4 linked regions of the Homo sapiens genome follow. The protein of the gene in region 3 purifies or fractionates together with the protein of the main gene of each other region. This does not show direct contact. Each region holds a gene or a part of one and is shown on either strand. Other genes may lie near its edges.

Region 1 (4,217 bases), on a different chromosome or scaffold from region 3:
TGCCTCTCCTTGCTTCGGTATTTTCACAGAGTCTTGCTCTGTCACTTAGACCGGAGTGCAGTGGTGTGATTGATCTTGGCTTACTGCAACCTCTGCCTCCTGGGTTCAAGCGATTCCCCTGCCTCAGCCTCCCAAGTAGCTGGGGTTACAGGCACGCACCACCACACCTGGCTAATTTTTGTATTTTTAGTAGAGACGGGGTTTCACCATATTGGATAGGCTGGTCTCGAACTCCTGACCTCAGGTGACCTGCCCACCTTAGCTCCCAAAGTGCTGGGATTACAGGTGTGAGCCTCCGTGCCCGGCCTGAAAATAGTTTACAACTAACACATCAAAGCCAGTGATTTCAAGGGTTATGACTGCTTCAGAGAACACTAAATGTATTTAAGATTATTGGAACCCTCATACACTGGTGGTAGGAATATAAAATGGTACAGCTGTTCTGGAAAAATAGTCTGGCAGGTCCTCAACAGGTTAAACCTGGGTGCAGTGGCTCACACCTATAATCCCAGCACTTTGGGAGCCTGAGGTAGGAGGATCGCTTGAGACCAGGAGTTCAAGACCAGCCTGGGCAACATAGTGGGACCCCTATCTCTACAAAATAAATAAATAATAAAATAAATTAAAAAAATATTTAAAGGTGAAACCTAAAGTTACCTTACGACCCAATCATTCCACTCCTAGAAATATACCTGAGAGAACTGAAAATGTATGTCCAAAGACCTGTACATGAATGTTCATAGCAGTATTATTCATAATAGTCAAAAGTTAGAAACAACCCAAACATCCATCAGCTGACAAATGGATAGAATGTGGTATATCCACATAATAGAATATTATGCAGCCATAAAAAGGAACGAAGTACTTAAAAAAAAAAAAAGGAATGAAGTACTGATACAGGCTGCAAGGGGCTGAACCTTAGAAACATTCTCTGAAGTGAAAAGCATCAGATACCAAAGGCCACATAGTATATGACTGCATTTATATGAAATGTCCAGCACAGGCAAATTCATAGAGAATTTGAGAGTCAGTAAGTGGTTGCCAAGGGATAGGGGAAGAAAGGATTGGGGAGTGACCATGAAACAGCCTTTCTTTTGGGCATGATAAAAATGTTCTAAAATTAGACAGTGGTGATGACTATGCAACTCTGAACATCCTAAAAATTACGGAAACATATACTTTAAAAGGGTGAATTGTACGGCATGTGAACTGTATCTCAACAAAGCTGTTATAAAAAAAGTTTGCATGAGATTTTTAAAAATCAGGTGATACAAAGATGTATATTAAGTAAACAACAGTACAATTGGGGTTCAGTGGGGTGGGGGGATTCAGAAATGACCCAACAGTTCCTTTAGGACAATGAAATAAACCCAGCTTTACAGTTATGGAAACTGAGACTAGATCGGAAGGAAAATGCGTCGCCCGGGCCACATCACTACTAAATCCGGTGTGTCACAGATCTGTTCAAATCCAGAAGCCTACCCTCGCCAGCAGACCACCCTGCTGAGATGAAAGGGTTATCACATGGAGGCTAGGGAGAGGTGTCCACCCACAGCCCAGTCTGGCAGACAGACATGCAAGGGAATGTCTGTTGGGAAGTGAGAAAAAGGGCTGGCTAACTCTGTGGGGTTCAAAACAGGAAGCACCCAACAATACCAGGAGAATGCCAGGGAAGGCTTCCCGGAGGAGGTGCTGCTTGAGGGGGCTTCTGTAGGATAAGTAGGAGTTCAACAGCCCGCCTCCTCAACATCCCCAAGGACATTAAGTCAGGAGGCCTGTGAGTGAGTTTCAGCTCTGCCACATCCTAGCTGTGAATCCTAGGGTCACGGGCAGGTGACCTCTCCAAGCCTCAGTCTCCCCATCTGTAAAAGGGGAAGGGGGCAAGAGGTTAGGCACGGTTCTTTCTAATGACTCTGCTGAGGTGGATGGTTCCTTCCCTAGGGAACGGGCCTTTGAGTGGGAATGCCAGACCTCGACCTCTGTCCCATCTAACAACGACTCTGCCAGGTCAGGCGTGCTCAGCCTCTGAGCCCATGCTCCCAGTCCCCTGCTACCAGTCCCAGTCCCGGCTTTCCGGGCACCTCCCATCCAGCTCACACCGAGAAGCGGAGTTTACGGAGGGAGGTTGGGGGTTGGGGTGGGATCCTCGGGTCAAATTCCTCTCCACTCCTCACCAGTGACCTCCAAGTTCACTAGGGCTCCCCAACCCAGTGCTCCCAGCGCCCACCTCCCCAGCCGACGATTTCCGCCCCCAACGCCTCCACTTCTGACGCTCCTCGCAACTCCACGGCTGCTGCAAGTTAACTTCCACGCGCCCTGGCGCCCGCCTGGGGGTCCCCGCGCGCCTGGGCGAGGTTGGGGACTCCGGAGGCGGGGACGCGCCGCCCTCCCCCCCAGTCCCCCCGCCAACAGACGCTGAGCGTCTCCCAGGCGCTGGGTCCGAAGCGGGAAGCGTGGTAACGGGGGCCCGGTGGATGCCGCACCCCGCGGAAAGCGCTCGGGACGCCGAGCGGGTGCGGATCCCAGAACCGCGCGCCCGCGCCGCCTGCCTGCCTCCCAGATCCCAGCTCCCAGCCCCGGAGCCCGAGCAGTCGCGCCGGGCCCGGAGGCAGCCGCCAGGACGGAGGGCTGCCAGGCGCCCGAGGCCGACCCGCACGGCCCCCAGCCCGCGCCCCCGGTTGCAACCCGAGGCCACCCCCTGCCGCCCCAGGGCCACCTACCGTGGCGAGACGCGGCGAGGCAGCCCCACGCACCCAGCGACTCCCGGCTCTCCAGCCGCCCCAGCCGGGGAAGGGGGAGGTGCCCGCGCGGGGGCGGGGCCGCGGCGACGTGACGTACGGGGGCGGGCCCGATACGCGGCCCCGCCCCGCCCCGCCCCATCCCCTCCACTGCGCCTCGGGACCGCGAGGTGAGCAGAGGCTGGTCGGGAAGTTTCCCGGAGGCTCGCCCCGGGAACCCCGCCCCGCCGCCCTGGAAGCCCCTGTCTGCTCGCTGGCTTACCCCTAGGACGGGCAGCTCACCACTTCTCCCGGTCAGTTCTGTTTAAGAGAAGTTCCTTTCTGCCTGTAAGCAATGAAGTGGAATGATCACCAAAAAGTGGTGTAAGAAAAGAAAAGTAGACCCGCAGCGGGGTGTATTCGTGCTACTGTTTGTGTAAAACACAGAAAAAAGAAAGGGGTGGTCTGATGTATAGTCATACACACCAGTGGTTTTGGAGGGAGTTTTTGTGGATATACCACATTCTCTCCATTTATCAGGGATTTTGCCCTGACATCCCTCCACCACCACGACATTTGGCAATCTCTGAAGACATTTTTGGTTGTCATAACTGGGGAAGTGGAGAGGCGATACTGGCATCTAGTGAGTAGAGGCCTGGAATGCTGCTAAACATTCTGCGGTGCATAGGACACCCTTTCCACCCCCAGCCCTGCCACTACCCCCCCAAAAAAAACCCTGCAAAAAATGCCGAATAGCGTAAAGGTTGTGAAGCCCTGATATACACAAATGAAACAAAACTCCTGACTGATAAATCTTAGCACAGTCTAAGTTCTATAACCTTTCAGTGCTTCTGCTTCTTCATGTGTAAAATTGGAAAAATAATAGAGCTATCTATGCATCGTATGCTTGTGCATTGAATACCTGAAGAAAAGGTAGGGTAGGCATGCAGGCTTACTTTTCATTGTGAACTTTGGTTCTTTGTTCTCTTTTAACTTTCTATTTGCCATATGTATATATTATCTGTTTAAAATAAATTTCTGGGTCAGGTGCATGGCTCACACCTGTGATTCTAGCACTTTGGGAGGCGAGGCGGGCGGATCACTTGAGGCTAGGAGTTCAAGACCAGCCTGGCCAAAATGGTGAAACCTCGTTTCTAATAAAAATACGAAAATGACTTTGGGAGGCCAAGGTGGGTGGATCACATGAGGTCAGGAGTTCGAGACCAGCCAGGCCAACATGGCGAAACCCTGTCTCTACTAAAAATACAAAAATTAGCCGGGTGTGGTGGTACATGCCTGTAGTCCCAGCTACTCAGGAGGCTGAGACAGGAGAATCGCTTGAACCTGGGAGGCAAGGGTTGCAGTGAGCTGAGATTGCACTGCACTCCAGCCTGGGCAACAAGTGAGACTCTGTCTCAAAAAAAAAAAAAAAAATGCAATCCCAGCACTTTGGGAGGCCGATGCGGGTGGATCACCAGGTCAGGAATCCAAGACCAGCCT
Region 2 (3,500 bases), on a different chromosome or scaffold from region 3:
GTGGACTCCATGAGCTCTGTGGAGGAGGATGACTACGACACATTGACCGACATCGATTCCGACAAGAATGTCATTCGCACCAAGGTCTGACCCGTGGGCCTGGCCTGGTCAGGCGTTTCCTGAGAAAGGGACATTCTGCGTTCCCGCCCCAGCATGTTCCCACTGACGTGGCATTTAGGGAAGCAGAAGGAAGGGGCTCAGCTGGGGCAGGGCAGATGCCGGGGAAACTAACCTGACCTCCAACCCCTTCCGGCCTGATTGGCCAAACCCTCTTGGTCTAAGCGGCCGCAGCAGTGGGATGTCCTTGAACCCTGCCCCCCTGAATTCGGCCCTGTGTGAGGGAGGCCCCTCTTGTCCACCTCTAACCTGGGGGAGGGGGCTTCTCCCAAGTAGCAGTAAGTGGGGCTGATTCCAGCTTCTCCCCAGCAATACCTCTATGTGGCTGACCTGGCACGGAAGGACAAGCGTGTTCTGCGGAAAAAGTACCAGATCTACTTCTGGTGAGTGGGCTGAGTGTCTGGGGCTCTGCTGTTGGTGGGTGTGTGGCAGCCTTGGGTGCCACCCACCTCACTGCCGCCCTCCTGCTCCGCAGGAACATTGCCACCATTGCTGTCTTCTATGCCCTTCCTGTGGTGCAGCTGGTGATCACCTACCAGACGGTGAGAGGGCAGGGCAGGTTCACCTTTCCGACAGCCTAGGACACCGCCCCAAAGTGCAGAGCCTCCCAGCCTGGGGCCCTGGTGTTCCATCACAGGACCTGGGTTCAGATCCCAGCTCTGCCTTCCCAGCCGAGTGACCCAGGGCAAATCACATAACCCCCCCAACCCTGAGTGTCAGTTTCTTCATCTGCAAAATGGGAGCAGCCCGCACTAAAGATAGCCCCTCCCTGGTTTCTTGTGCGGATTATGAAACCAAAGTCCTGGGGCTTTGTAAGCATCAGTTTCCCTTCCCTTTTCTCTGTCCCGTGGGGCAAGAACTTCCATCACGGTCATGCCTCAGGGTTTTCAGCCACGCCTAATGAGAGGGGACAGCGACTGTGCTGCATGGCATCCATGTTCTCAGAAGGAACACGTGCCTGCGGTGCTGTGTATTCCCACCTGCTAGCTGTGGTGGCACTTGCTGTTTTTTGCCAAAGGGGCCCGGATGGCGGGGCGTGGGCTGAGTTGGGCGTGACGACAGACCCACTCCCTGTCCCTGCTCCTGCTACAGGTGGTGAATGTCACAGGGAATCAGGACATCTGCTACTACAACTTCCTCTGCGCCCACCCACTGGGCAATCTCAGGTGGGGGTCATGCTGGGAGGCCCCTTGTCCAGGCCAAGGGTGAAATGGGGCAGGGCCTGGGGCTTTGCAATGCCCACGTGGGCTAGGGAAGAGGCCTGGGTGTGAGTCCCAAGCAGTCTGCCTTGTGTTGCCCCTTCTAGCGCCTTCAACAACATCCTCAGCAACCTGGGGTACATCCTGCTGGGGCTGCTTTTCCTGCTCATCATCCTGCAACGGGAGATCAACCACAACCGGGCCCTGCTGCGCAATGACCTCTGTGCCCTGGTAAGGGAGCACCTGCCTGCCTGCCGCAGCCTCAGCTCCAGCACAGACCTCAAGCCTTGGCTCCAGGACACCCTTTTGGGCAGGCCTGGCCCTGCCTTCCCCAGCTCTCCCCTCCCCAGTTCTGTCTGGCCCACCCTATCCAGCCCAGCCTGCCCCACCCTGCCCTGCCCTCCCTTGCCAGCCTGCCCAGGCCAGCCCACCCCTGCACACCCACACTCGACACATACCCCACCCCTTTTCCTCTTCCACTCCTCTTAGGGTCCCTCTTTTGGGTCCCTTCTTCCCTTCCTGCCTCACTTCCTCCCTCCCTTCCCTTCTCTCTCTCCCCAACAGGAATGTGGGATCCCCAAACACTTTGGGCTTTTCTACGCCATGGGCACAGCCCTGATGATGGAGGGGCTGCTCAGTGCTTGCTATCATGTGTGCCCCAACTATACCAATTTCCAGTTTGGTGAGTGGGGCGTCCTTCTTTTCTGGCTCAACCTACAGCAGGGACCTGCCTGAGTCCTTCACTATCCCCAAGTCACCCACAGGGATCGCTAAGACACCCCTGTAGGAAACTCCAAGGCTGGCGTGCCTGGGTGTGCACACATCCTAGCCTATGGAACATGGGCACCTAGATGCTGCTTCATTCATCTGTCAAGCTATTCCTATGTAAAGGCATGTGCCGCAGTGAAGAAAACAGTATAATTAAGAAGGGGTCCCTGGCCGGGTGCAGTGGCTCACGCCTGTAATCCCAGCACTTTGGGAGGCCGAGGCAGATGGATCACGAGGTCAGGAGCTCCAGACCATCCTGGCTAACATGGTGAAACCCCGTCTCTACTAAAAATACAAAAAATTAGCCGGGCACAGTGGCAGGCGCCTGTAGTCCCAGCTGCTCGGGAGGCTGAGGCAGGAGAATGGCATGAATCCGGGAGGCAGAGTTTGCAATGAGCCAAGATCACGCCCTGCGCTCTAGCCTGGGCAACAGAGCGAGACTCCGTCTCAAAAAAAAAAAAAAGAAGGGGGCCCTGGCTGGGCACTGTGGCTCATGCCTGTAATCCTAGCACTTTGGGAGGCTGAGGCGGGGGGATCGCCCAAGGTGGGGAGTTTGAGATCAGCCGGGCCAACATGGTGAAACCCCATCTCTACTAAAAATGCAAAGATTAGCTGGGTGTGGTGGTGCATGCCTGTAATCTCAGCTACTCAGGGGGCTGAGGCAGGAGAATTGCTTGAGCCCAGGAAGCGGAGGTTGCAGTGAGCCGAGATCCCACCATTGCACGCCAGCCTGGGCGACAGAGTGAGACTCCGTCTCCAAAAAAATAAAAGGGAGTCCCTGATCTCAGGGTGCTCACAGACTAAGACACAGACCAAGTTGTCCCTGTTTTCAGGAGATGTCAGACTCTGGGTGACAGCCAGTGGGGTGGCAGTGTGGTGTGGCAGGTACAACTAAGGAACTGAAGTTCAAGTGCCACCCTGCCACCAGCTCACACCATGGCCGTGGTGGGGCACCAGGGCTCTCTCTTCCTCTGGGATTGTTGGGGCCAGGAGTTCTCTGCTGGGGCTTGGTGGCCATTTCTGCAGCTCCCTTCCGTGTCCCTCATCCTAGACACATCGTTCATGTACATGATCGCCGGACTCTGCATGCTGAAGCTCTACCAGAAGCGGCACCCGGACATCAACGCCAGCGCCTACAGTGCCTACGCCTGCCTGGCCATTGTCATCTTCTTCTCTGTGCTGGGCGTGGTGAGGGCCTGACCTGCTCTGCTCAGCCTGTATGATAGGAAAGGTGCACGTGCGTTCAGACACGTAGTGCACACCCTCCGCCACCTCCTGCATGAGAGATTCCTGCTCCTTCCCTGAGATGCCTTCCTGGGCCCCTCTCAGAGTCCCAGCCTGGCTGAGCAGCCAGCCCCAGGAAGGGTGGGCCATCCGAGCCACTTCCCTCTCCACCCTCACCGCTGCCCTTGGTGG
Region 3 (2,736 bases):
GGGAGTTCGGCTTAGGGAAGTTGAGTCACGCAGCTGACAGGGTGAGGGTGTGAGCCCAGACAGCACACAAATGGGGGAGGGCCACAGGGTCAGGAGGCAGGTTACAGGTGACATTAGGGCCTTCCTCTGGCAGTTTGTGAAGACCCACTGGTCTGAGTCTGCTAGTGTGGGATGTGCAGGCCAAAGGTGCAGGCAGTTGACAGAGTAAAGTGCTGTTCCTGAGCTTAGCTCCTGCCTTTGGGCAAACACAGTCTCTGCCACTCTGCAGAGTAGTGCCTCAGCCTGGCAGAGCTCATTAGCAGCTAATGCATGACAGGAATTTCATGGCACCGTCCACTGGTCCCGTGGTGTTAACCGCCTGTGTGGCATGCTTCTCTGCGTGGTTTTCCAGCTTTCGTGGGCACAGGGAGAGCAGAGGCCTGGGAAGGACGGGCACCAGCCATACCCCCTCCCAATGTACAGAGCCCAGCCCAACCTCAGGGAGTCCGGCACCGCAGAAACACGTAACACAAAAGCTTTTACTTGGAAACTGGCAAATACTGGACTAGAATACTGACATGCTCACGCTCTGGCGGGAGCTCGGATGCAGAAGCTATTGCACAAAGCCCCTCTGATTGCCTTGCTCCTCTTTGGCATGTATCAGCAGAGCCCCAAGGGCCAATTGCCCACAGGTGGGGACTGTTCTCCATCAAGGTATGGGGACCCCTACTTCCTTGTTTTGTTAAAAAGTGCAGGTAGGCGAAGAAGCCCAGGCAGTTGACCCAGTCTTTGAAACAGCTGACTCCCCAGCACCCAGTGTCCACTGGCAGATGAGAGGTTTGCACCTATACCAGCCCTTGTTTCCTTGGTAGGGCTCAAGTTGTCAGTGTCCAGGTACCTGGGCTGGGCCAGAGCTGGGGCCAGGGGAGCCTGGTCTTGAGGGGTAAGGGCTGCAGGGCCAGGCTGATGGCCTGTGTCATGGCATTGGCCATCTCCTCTCCAGCTTCTCCTCAGCCATCGCCCGTCCGTCATGGTGGTGTCGGCTGCACCTGGACCTTCCTGCCTCTCCGCTCAGGGCAGCAGCAGTGAGTGCAGCAGCAGCTGCAGGCTATCAGCAGCAACAGCAGAACAGTAGCTGGAGGGCCGGGAGAGAGCACGGGACTCAGGTTGGGGGAGAGAAAGGATGCCCACCCTCCTCCCAGAGAAACCCACTGCCTGCCAGGGTCTTTCCCCCACAGGTTTGGTGGAGGTCAGAAAGATCCGAGAGGCTGGTGAGAGGTGCGGACGGTCCCCATGCCAGCCGCCAGGGCCAACCTCCTCCATGTTGTGTCTTCTCTTTCACTGCCCAAGCCTGGCTCCCGTCATCCCCGCGTTTGGGATCCCGGGGTACTGCTGGGCCCAGTCCCCAGCACCGCCCATCACCCAAGCAGCATATCAGAGGATGAGGGAAGTCCCTTGGCTTCCCCCAAGGGACAACTGGTTTTCCTCCTTGATCCGGCAGACACCCGCCACCTCTGCCAGCCCTCTGGCTGGCACCATGGTGTGGTCTCTCCCAGATGCCAGGGAGAGCCATGGGGTGCTGAGTGCCCCAACTAACCTGTGAAAAGGATGATGACTGAGAAGGCCACGATCTCCACGGGCTCAGCCTGGGGCAGTCTCTGCAGCTTGAGCAGCAGCCTCTCGCCCACGGCGCGCATCTCCTGCACGAAGTCGGTGGCAGCCATGCCGCGCTGGCTTCCTGTTGGGGCTCCTGCCGGGCTCTGCTGGGGCAGAGAGAACACCTGGAGCCTCCACGGCTGGCCCCACACTCGTCGCAGCACCGAGATTCCACCCTCGCACCCATCCGCAGCCCGCAGAACAAGTTTGTCAGGTCTCACACATTGCACCCCTGGTGACTTCCACCTAGTGGTGGCCCTCAGTCCCCACCCAGCTGACACAGCTCAGGGTGGAGGAAGCCGGTGAGGACAGTGAGACCAAGGGCTTGCTTCGGGGGCTGCCGGCCAAGGCGGCGGCTGGTGGTGGTTTCTGGCTTCGCTGTTCCATTCCCTTGTCTTGAGGTACCACTACTGGGTTTTGCCTGGGTGCTTGGGACTGGCACAGCTCCCTCGGGGTGGGGAGACTGGGATAGGATGCCAAGCTGGTACTCTTGCCTTCCATCAATGTGGGGACAGAAGGAGCAGGTTCTCCCGAGAGCAGGTTCATGGGGCTTCTGGCCAGGGTCAGTCAGAGGTGAAAACTGCCCCCCTGTCCCCCAGGCCCCCCAACCTCTCCCACCAGCCCAGTTTCTACACTCATGCCTGTTCTGCCAGAGGGGGAGGCCGCACCGTGTCCCTCCAGGTTTTGCCAGGGTTTCTGTCCTGTCTGTTGGGAGGGGGTCAGGAGGCCCAGGTTGCTCAAGCCAGCCCCTCCCCTGCTGGCGTCATCTGTTTCTCTAGCCTGACCAGGAAAGTCCTCTCCACTCCCACCCCTGCCCCAGGAGAGCCTCTTCCTGTCTCAGGGTGCCCAAGAGGCCCAAGGTGCCACTCCAGAAGGCTTTCCCCTTCTGCCTCTCCTGTGGGCATGAGGGAGCTGGTGCCTCTTTAGAGAGGAGCCAGAGACAACCTTGTCCCAACCCAGCCTGATCCAGTTCACCAAGGCAGTTGCTCTAATCCAGGGGTGGTGGTGGGGACAGGTGGCCAGGGGCTGGTGCCAGACCTTTGGCTGTAATTATCGTTGCCTTGTCCCAGGTCTCAGCCGGTTCTCGCTGAGATGGCTACG
Region 4 (3,500 bases), on a different chromosome or scaffold from region 3:
GGTGAGCCCTGCTCTCACCAAATGCCCCTGATTGGCCAGGTCCCAGTTCCAGTAACCTGAAGGATCCTGGAGAGATGAGAACTGCTCTGGGATGAGTGGCACCATACTTCTCTCCAGGGAAGATTCTGCTGCCTGCTGGCTGCTATGGGATGCTGGCTGGCAGAACTGGGTCCTCCCAGTTGCCAGGGCCACAGCCCCAGAAGCTGTTTCTTAGACAGGCATTCTGAATTACTTAATTCCCATTATGTGTTTATACCAGAACCAAGGATTCACTGAATCGGCAGCCTTTCTTCTCCTGAATATACTCGGGAGACTTTGGCATGGTCACACTTCCCTCCTGTTCAGTCCCTACTGTCCATAGAAAGTCAAGAAAACATTTATTTTCTTTTGCTACCACCCTCCCTTTGCCTGTGAGGATGTAATCCAGGTTTGGCCAGTTACCTGAACCTAGAGAGAAGCAACTTGAGATGCAAGCTCCTGCCTGTGGGACTGAGGAGCAGCCCAAGAACTGGGGTCCCACGGGTCTCCGCAGCAGAGAGAGGAAGGCACTAGCCGACAGGGGCCTGCTCCACACTGAACTATCCCTGCCCTGGGAATGGCATATGTGGAAGCTTTCCCTTTCTCTCTACCAAAGGGTAGAGAAGAAGCAAACAGAAGCAATCTCCTTGCCTCTTGTCTTTTCATGCCTTCAGCAGCATTTCTTAAGGGCTTGGTTTTCCCATCTGTGTCACGGAAACAGAAGTGTTGCTTCTGAACCTGTGACCTCACTCAGTTTCTGAGTCTTCCCACGAGTAGATCTCCCTACCCACCCAGCCCTGCCTGCACCCACACTGGAAATGGAGGTCATTTTTCAGTTTTCCATTGCCTCCTTAATGTTCTCATCAAACGGTAAAAGCCTGGGTGAGATCCCCAGGTATGTCAAGTCTCTGGCAGCAGCGCTTTGGCCTTGCCCTCAGTGTCTCTCACATACAGATCCCTAGTCCTGCCTTTGGCCTAGTGCCATGGCAGGAGCCCAGTCAGATGCAAGAACATGCCCAGGCTCCAGTAAGCAGCTCGGATGTCCTGGAGCCCTGAGACGGGCAGGGATGGTGTCTCCCAAGAACTGTTCATGGATTGTGGAAACAGCTCCTACTCACTGCTCATAGCACAGGTTTCAGACTCACATAGGTTACTGGTTGGATCAGTACCATAGGCACCTGGGCATGTTACAGGTGGATCCCATCTTAGGAGGCTTCTCTCTGAGCTGCTGTGCCCAAGCTGAGAGAGCTAATGGGCTCAGTGAAGTCACCCAGGAGAAAGTATTACAGAGCTCCACATCGGCTGTCTGCAGCTTCAAACGAGATATAAAATAGATATCCTGGGGGAGGGAGAAAGGCTCCAAATTCAAATACATGACGGACTTTTATTAAAGTTAAGCTAGTTTCTTCATCGCAGGATTTCTGTCTTTACTGTGGTCATGTATTTTAGGACCCTCCAAAAGGGAGATGGAACAGGAAAGACAGCCCCCACCCTCTTCTCCACCCACAATTACCCAGACATAGACACAAAATCAAATACTGGGACTGGAAAGGAGACCCCTAAGGTCCAGTAGTCCCAGCTCTATCATTTTATAAAAAGGGTGAGGCTAAGAGAGAAGGAAATTTGCCCGAGGTCACACTGCTAATAAGTGACGTGGCTGAGATTAGATGGGCATTCTATTATTCCCCAAGACCATCCACCCGAGCATGTATTCTCTCAGTCCCCCTGGTAAAACCTATGAAGCATTTTGGGGGAGCCTTCACTCTCCTGACACTAAAATGGGTTTCCATGTTGACAGTCCTGGGCACTGAGGCAGGAGAGCAGCTGGCTGTGAGCACAGCCCCCAGATCCTAAATGAGAGTCAGAGACAAATGTGGACTATGAAGGGCTTTTTTCCTGAAGTTTCAAGTAGCCTTTGGAAGAAGCTGGGGATGTGCTGCCTTAACCTGTGTGAGGCAGTTCAGGCTGTCTATCACACTGGACTTTGCCTTGCTACAGGCTGGAGAAGTCAAGCCAAGTCCGCACAGTGTCCAGCAGCAATTTATTCTTTAAAGGGAGCCGGTTCCGATACAGGTAAATAGTGACAGTAAGTAACCATTATGGATCTATTTTCAGACCCTTCTCTGGAGAACTCAGTGGTCCTTATCCTTTAGAACAGAGAAACCAGGGAGGACTCAGAAAAGTCTGAGGTCTCCATCTAATTCTCCCATCTTATGACCCTTTTACTATTTCCTTCCTTCCCTACAGCAATTTGTCTGTAGGGTTTTAAATGTATATTGGCCGGCCATAGTGGCTCATGCCTATAATCCCAGCACTCTGGGAGGCTGAGGCAGGTGGATCACTTGAGGCCAGGAGTTTGAAATCAGCCTGGGCAACATGATGAAACCCCATCTCTACTAAAAATACAAAAAAAATTATCTGGGTGTGGTGGCACACACCTGTAGTCCCAGCTACTTGGGAGGCTGAGGTGGGAGAATTGCTTAAGCTCAGGAGGTCGAGGCTGCAGTGAGCCATGATTGCACCACTGCACTCCAGCCCAGGAGACAGAGCAAGACCCTGTCTCCAAGAAAATGAAAAATAAATATGTATCTTCTCTTTCCCTTACAATAGCAAAATAAGAACTATAACAGTGATTCATGTCTCACTGTCTAAAGGTTGTTCTTATGTGTTTTTTTGTGATGTAATTGGAACATGCTGGAAAATGAGGAATTACTCCTAAATGAGAATGGAAGATCCTAAAGACTCTAGAGATGGAGAGAGTTCTCTCAGATAGGCTGTCATGACAGTTTAGAAGTCTACCCCACCAAGCAAGCCTTTCTCCATGACCAAAACATCAGGGAAAGGGTGGGCCACAGATGCCATTTCCTGATTCAGGGAAAGCACCTAAGATCTTGGAGAGGAGCTGTCCTACAACACAGTCTCATTTCTTGCTGCTTGTTTTTATTACACTACTTACAGTGGCCGAGTTGCAAAGGAAGTCATGGAATCAAGTGCTAAGATCAAACGGGAGCCACCGGAAATACACAGGTAGGCTGCCAGGGGCTTCCCCCCAAACAGTTGTAGCTCAGATCCCAGAATCTCAATCCAGCAGTTTGAGTACTGTGAAGCCCCTGGCTCCAGTGGCTACCAAAAAGTCCAAAATGGAGCAGAAGGCTGAAGAAACTTCTCAGAGGGATGGGGAGAAGTCTTTGACCCTTAATAAGAGAGCTGGGGAGGGAGGAAGGGCTACTGCAGATAGTACATCAGATCCAGGTGCCACTTCACTTGGCAATTCTCTTCTGCCCTCCCTAGTCTTGACACTGATCATAGATGTGTCACACAATTTCAGTGGTTCTGGAACCAGTCGATCATATGAAGCCAAGGATAGTCCCACAGCCCTGCCACACTGGCTCTAAAATAATTTCAGGATCCATGCTTCATGTAGATCCACAAATTGTGTTTCCAGAAGCCTATCTCCTAGAATCTAAGACCCAGAAAGAATA

The links. Proteins that work in one complex are often made in the same cells at the same time.
Region 1: the proteins of SMIM5 (region 3) and TPST2 purify together in Homo sapiens (affinity purification with mass spectrometry; one large-scale study listed by BioGRID and IntAct). This does not show direct contact.
Region 2: the proteins of SMIM5 (region 3) and SIDT2 purify together in Homo sapiens (affinity purification with mass spectrometry; one large-scale study listed by BioGRID and IntAct). This does not show direct contact.
Region 4: the proteins of SMIM5 (region 3) and FRMD5 purify together in Homo sapiens (affinity purification with mass spectrometry; one large-scale study listed by BioGRID and IntAct). This does not show direct contact.

Annotation. Positions count from the first base shown.
Region 1 is NC_000022.11:26,587,333-26,591,549, forward strand, and holds the start of TPST2 (protein-tyrosine sulfotransferase 2), read right to left. Parts: upstream 2,801-4,217; 5' UTR 2,721-2,800; intron 1-2,720. UniProt on the Homo sapiens protein: Catalyzes the O-sulfation of tyrosine residues within acidic motifs of polypeptides, using 3'-phosphoadenylyl sulfate (PAPS) as cosubstrate.
Region 2 is NC_000011.10:117,188,743-117,192,242, forward strand, and holds part of SIDT2 (SID1 transmembrane family member 2 precursor), read left to right. Parts: coding exon 1-84; intron 85-426; coding exon 427-500; intron 501-592; coding exon 593-659; intron 660-1,209; coding exon 1,210-1,283; intron 1,284-1,423; coding exon 1,424-1,547; intron 1,548-1,880; coding exon 1,881-1,998; intron 1,999-3,135; coding exon 3,136-3,272; intron 3,273-3,500.
Region 3 is NC_000017.11:75,639,169-75,641,904, reverse strand, and holds the end of SMIM5 (small integral membrane protein 5), read right to left. Parts: exon of another isoform or gene 1,740-2,736; coding exon of another isoform or gene 1,704-1,739; coding exon 1,577-1,703; intron 1,115-1,576; coding exon 1,008-1,114; 3' UTR 501-1,007; downstream 1-500.
Region 4 is NC_000015.10:43,884,272-43,887,771, reverse strand, and holds part of FRMD5 (FERM domain-containing protein 5), read left to right. Parts: intron 1-2,016; coding exon 2,017-2,091; exon of another isoform or gene 2,092-2,104; intron 2,105-2,976; coding exon 2,977-3,045; intron 3,046-3,500. UniProt on the Homo sapiens protein: May be involved in regulation of cell migration. May regulate cell-matrix interactions via its interaction with ITGB5 and modifying ITGB5 cytoplasmic tail interactions such as with FERMT2 and TLN1.